Linked DNA regions of Homo sapiens: region 2 is linked to region 1. The links come from fine-mapping of genetic effects on gene expression. Tissue or cell type: whole blood. Region 1 holds a variant in brackets; the other region holds the start of a gene. All regions are shown on one strand. Distances are from middle to middle.

Region 1 (2,910 bases):
CATTGAAAATTGAAAAAGATTCACTCATGGAAACTCCAGAAGGAGAGAACAGAGAAAATAGGGGAAGTAATTGAAGAAATAAAATAAAATTTCCCAAGCTGAAGAAAAGCACCAGTTGTCAGATTGAAAAAGCCTGCTGAATGACATCTCCAGAGAGAAGAAAGCCAGTTACCTACAATGAAAAGAGACAAAAAATTGGCATCGCGCTTCTCATGTCAACATGGATATTAGTCAACTATGTGGCAAACCATGGCAATAGTTCAATGGGTTGGTGGTGAAACCCTGTTGTTGTTTTGTTTTGTTTCATTTTTGAGATAGGGTTTTGCTATATCATCGAGGCTGGTCTTGAACTTCCTGCCTCAAATGATCCTCCCCCCTTAGCCCTTTCATGTATTTCCTTCTTGGAGAGAGCTGTGTCTTCATTTTTCTCTCCCTGATTGTTGTAGCAGTCTGGAGTTATCTTAAGCTCTGCTTTTCTATTCTAGGCCCCTACACCAGGACGCCTTAAGGGAAGGAAGTTTGCTTGCTTCAGAGTGTAGTTCTCCACTTTTAACCTGGGATCAAACACGTGTGTTGTGTGTATAAACCAGGAGACAGGAGAGAGATGGTTTCTGGGCTGTCCTCTCTGACCTGATGCAGCTGTTTATGACTCACTAGAAGCATTGCTCCATGGCTACTTCTCTTCTTGTTCCATTTGTTCTCTCTAAGTTTGGAATTTCCCCAATTGGCCTTTCACTCACGGGTGTGTCGGGATGTAGTTTTCTGTTCACGCCTGTTATCAGTCTCCTCTCATTCATTTCTATCTTCTTTCCAGGAATGTCTCGAATTTCCTGGTCTTTTAATGGTGGTTTCATTTCATGTTTTCCTAGAATGCTGTAAATGTATTCTTTCTAAAATATAGCTTTTTATTTTAATAGATTCAGGATTGGAGGGAAGGTGAAAGCTTGCACTGTTTGTCAACTAGATCTAATATCATTCATGTGTATATATATGTATATCTGTTTTATATTTTTATTTTGTGTACTATAGAAAAATTATATTGTGAAACATACATTAATAAATTGCATTGTATGTGTTATTTTATAATCTCTTTTTCACTTGGCATTATACTTTTAACACTTCCCTATAGAAAGACTTCATTAAATTTTTCTCAAATGTAAAGGACAACACCATGGGTAAATTTAACACATAACCAGAAATAGGACACTAAATTTAGGAGCTGTTAATTAACTAAATTGAAAAATGCGTGATATATTCTTTTTCTTTCTTTAATGCCAGATCTTAAAATGTTTGGATCTTATCCAACCAAAAAATTGATCAGATTATCAATGTATTTGTTAATTCAGTTGTTCTGAAGTCCAGTTGTTTTAGTTGCTTAATGGCCAGTTATATGCAAGAATCCAGTGATACAAGATCAAACATTTATTCTGGCTGGGTATATTTTTTGAATTTGGCTATATTCGTAACATGAAGTGAAGA[T/C]GCAAAGAAATTGCACAAACATCTCTGTTAGAAAATGTCTGTGTGGAAAAATCAGAACACATGGACTGTGTGTATAAATTTGAAAGCCTAGGGAAATGAAATAGCAGGCAAGTGAGAAAACTCCTTCTCCTCTCCTGGAGACTTTTTCCCCCACTCTGAAAAAACAGGAAAAATATATAATCTGAACCCTCTCCAAAAGATCCAGAAGAAAGGATATACAACAAGGAAAAGCAACTTACATTATAGTTGATGACTCTAAGAAAAAAAGGGAGCGCAAGGAATAAAATAATGACATTGAGACTCTGAGCAAAACTCAGTGGGGAAGGGTAATAATGTTCTTTGAGAGTGTGCTAAAATATAAAGGAATTCTCCAAGAAATGGCAATCACTGAAGCTCTTAAATATCACAAGCATAAGGCTAGAGACTTTACAAGAATATCTTTCTGATTCACAGAGGAGCTCACTCAAAGTTCTAAAGAAAATCTCTAGCACCACCACCCCCCACCTCGATTAATGAATATCTTTGAGGTAGGCAGAATAATGGACCCACAAATGTGTCTCCTTTTTTTTTTTTTTTTTTGACACGGAGTCTTGCTCTGTTGCCCAGGCTGGAGTGCAGTGTCGCAATCGTGGCTCACTGCAACCTCTGCCTTCCAGGTTCAAGCGATTCTCCTGCCTCAGCCTCTTGAGTAGCTGGGATTACAGGCACACACCATCACGCCTGGCTAATTTTTGTATTTTTAGCAGAGACAGCATTTCACCATGTTGGTCAGGCTGACCAACTCCTGACCTCGTGATCTGCCCGCCTCAGCCTCCCAGGGTGCTGGGATTACAGGCGTAAGCCACCACGCCCGGCCAAATATGTTTACTCTCTATCCCCCAGAATATGATACCTTCCATGGTAAAGGGACTTTGCAGTTGTGATTAAGGTTGAATATTTTGAGATAGAGAGTGTATCTGAATTATCCAGGTGGACTCTATAATCATACAAGTCCTTAAAAGTGGAGAACCTTTCCCAGTTGCAAGTGAAAAGATGAGAGGGGAAAAAAAGGAAGAGAGATTCACAGTATGAGAGGGACTCAGCCCACCATTGCAGGCTTTGAAGATGGAGGGAGAGGCCATAAGCCAAGGAATGCAGGGGCCTTCAGAAGCTGGGAATGGCCCTCCACTGACAACCAGCAAGGAACTGAATTCTGTCAACAACCCAAATTAGCAGGAAATGGATTTTCCCCCAGACCCTCCAGAAAGAAACATAGCCTATTAACACATTGGTTTTAGTCAAAGAAACCCATGTTGGTCTTCTGACTCACAGAACTGTGAGAGCATACACTGGTGTTGCTGAAGCCACTAAGTTGATAGTAATTTGTTATGGCAGCAATAGAAAAGGAATACAACTTTGATCCAGCGTTCTCTACCAAGTAGGCTCAGATTA
Region 2 (2,910 bases), 28 kb before region 1:
TGCATGGGAGTCTGAGGCTCCCGCGGGACGTGAGTTAGGGGCCGCACATTGCAGACACCTCACGTCACCAAGTGCTGCAGTAGGACCCCCGCAGCTTCCCCTCGGCCCCCTACCCTCCACAGCCTGTCCTACCCCCGTTATTTTGCACCTTTCTCCCCCTTTGTCTATGCATCTCCAAATATCTGAGTATGGGGACGGCAAGATTGGCCCTAGAGGGCAAGCTGCCTGTAGAAGCAAATTCAACGCTTCTCCTTAATCCGTGTGCATTTCTACAGTTTGACAGCTTGACGTCCTCTAGTGTAGTTTGGCAAAATTTGGGGGGTCGTTTTCATTTTTTTCTCTCCACAGGCTTAAGGATTAAAGCTGGCCAATGCCTTCTTTAGCATTTTATTAAAGACGCTACAATTTAGACTTTTTTTTTTTCTGTTTGGTGCAGAAGAAAGGAAGAAAACCAGAGCTTAAAGGCGTTTAGAAAGGAAATAGCCCTGTTAGTTTTTCGGTTTTGACTCAAGCTGTCGTCGATAGCAGCTTGCACCTAGCACAAAGCCAGCTGCAGAAGTATTTTGTTGCAGGGTAGGCTACACCTACACAGGGTCTGTGCCTGAGCATCAAAAGACAGTGCAGGTGTGTGTGGGTCCGGGTGTGCGTGTGCGTACGTGATGTACGTGTGTGCGTGTGGGTACGTGTGTGTGTAGCCCAACAAATAAGCCCAAGAGGCGCATCAAGATTAGAAAGAAGTCCGCACACCAGCGCTTGCCTTGGAAATTTCCTAAAGCGCTGAGAGTTGGTTGGTAAATCACTAGTATCCGAAAACTGTCTTATCAGAGGCTCCTTCCCCGGTGCCCTACTCGCCCCCTAAAACAGGTGTCGCTGTGTCCCTTGAAGCGGCCTTTGGCCCGCTGGGGCATCGCAGGTGGGTAAAATTCAGAGGACATTCGGTGTTTATTTCTGGGGCCCCACGTGTGCAAACCAAACCCCCGGGGCCTGGGCGTGTGCGCGCGCTCGCGTGCCTTGTGTGCGGGCGGGCATGGGGGCGCTCGGCGCGGCTGGCGGGCGTGCGCGCGCGCGTTTGTGTGTGTGTGTGTGTGTGTGTGTGTGTGTGCTCGTGCGGGGGGCCGGGCTGCGTGCTCACGCGCTCCAGGCTGCGCCCAGAGCTCAGCTGCTGGGTTGGAGAAAAAGAGGGTAGGCAAGCGCAGGGGGCGGGCGGCCGAGGAGCGCTTTCGAATTAATCGAGCTAGCTTAGCTGTTTTTCCCTCTCCCGCTCCTTTAAACCCCCCTGCATCGTAGAGAGCGGGCTGGATTCTCTGTGGTGCTGATGGAGGAGGGGGAGCAGGTTGAAACAATCGAGTGGGCGCGCCAGGACTCCCCAGCTCCTGGCGGGGAAGGGAGGGGGAGCCCCTGTTCTGCGCAGGGAGGCGGCGGGGCTGGGGGGCCCCCGGAACGAGGAAGAGGCAGGGGTGACCGCTAGAATAGGAAAGTGCTCACCCCCGGGAGGCAAAATTTCGTTCAGATCGCACATTAATTGGAGATATCTGATTAATTCCAGCTTCTGATGACTATAAATGGCGATTCTCTACCAAGGTGTCTATATTAAAAAAAAAATCATTCCGTGTCATCCCCCACGTCAGGCCTGCTCGTGGGCGTGAGGCTGTACTTCCTCCGCCCCCTTCTAATGGAGTGAACCATTCCCAGCTCTCCCCCCCCCCTCAGCCTCTCTCTCTCTCTCTCTTTCTCTCTCTCTCTCTCTTTCTGTCTCTTCCTCGCTCCCTCTCTTTCTCTCCTCCCTCTGCCTTCCCAGTGCATAAAGTCTCTGTCGCTCCCGGAACTTGTTGGCAATGCCTATTTTTTGGCTTTCCCCCGCGTTCTCTAAACTAACTATTTAAAGGTCTGCGGTCGCAAATGGTTTGACTAAACGTAGGATGGGACTTAAGTTGAACGGCAGATATATTTCACTGATCCTCGCGGTGCAAATAGGTAAGTGGCCGCTCAGCCCGGCTGGAGGCTGGAGGCGGGAGGCAGCCTGCCCCGGCCCGAGGCGCGGAGGGGGACTAGCGGGTCCGCGGCCGCCCCAGGGTGCGGAGAAGCCGGCAATCCCCCGAGGGTGGGGGCATCAGTTCCTGGGGACTAGCGCGTCCCAGATCGGTTTTTCCTAAAGCTATAGATTCCAAATGTTCGCCAGGAAATGTGTGCGGCCGGACATTTTCTGGACACGGTTTTTTTCCCCCTTTTTCCTGAGCACACATCCATTTTTGTTTCCCTTTCTGGGTTTATACCAGGTTTGGTGCGCTCTGGGGCAATGTACTGGCCCCTGCGATACTGCAAGATATGATTTTGAAGAGTCGAAATGTGAATGCAGGAATAAAATGGCTAGGCAGCCAGGACTGGAAAGTTTATGTGCTGAAAGCAAAGATATTCCAGGGCTCAGACTGCTGCATTTAGAACTTTGTCATTCTCCCGCCCCTCCTCCCCCCTATATCCTAGCTGCAGCGTTTGCACGGGCACCGCAGACCCGGCTGGTGGGCAAATCGAGAGTGATAGGGAACTTCAGACCACATATTTTAACATGCTTACCATTGAAGAGGATGAATTCAGCCAAATTTACGTAGATATACTTTTCTAGATGCATTTGCCTGCTACTTTACACATTGGTGTCTGCATTTTATATATAGGAAAGGGTTAAGAAGTGTTTGGAATATGTCATGTCGGGTGTTTGTTATTTTTGTTTGTTTGGGATTGGTTATGGAAGGAATTATTTAGTCCCCATTTTATGTTAAGGAATGTTGAGTTGTAGTTACGCTGTCAGGGGTCTTTTTAAAGTTCACATTTTTACCATCCAGAATGAAGAAAAGATATAGAAGAGGGCACTAGAAAACCCCCTTCTCCGACACTGGGTCAGAACATTAATTAACG

The links.
Region 2: NRN1 starts here. The variant in region 1 is fine-mapped to the expression of NRN1 in whole blood (INTERVAL, PIP 0.98).

The regions. Positions count from the first base shown.
Region 1 is chr6:5,977,574-5,980,483 of GRCh38, reverse strand. No RefSeq gene overlaps it. Among named protein-coding and RNA genes, the nearest start is that of NRN1, 28 kb to the left of the region's middle. The variant T/C (reference allele first, on the strand shown) is at 1,480.
Region 2 is chr6:6,005,759-6,008,668 of GRCh38, reverse strand. It overlaps NRN1 (neuritin 1), which reads left to right and starts at 1,744. Exons shown (of 3, transcript NM_016588.3): 1 at 1,744-1,974. The coding sequence starts at 1,920.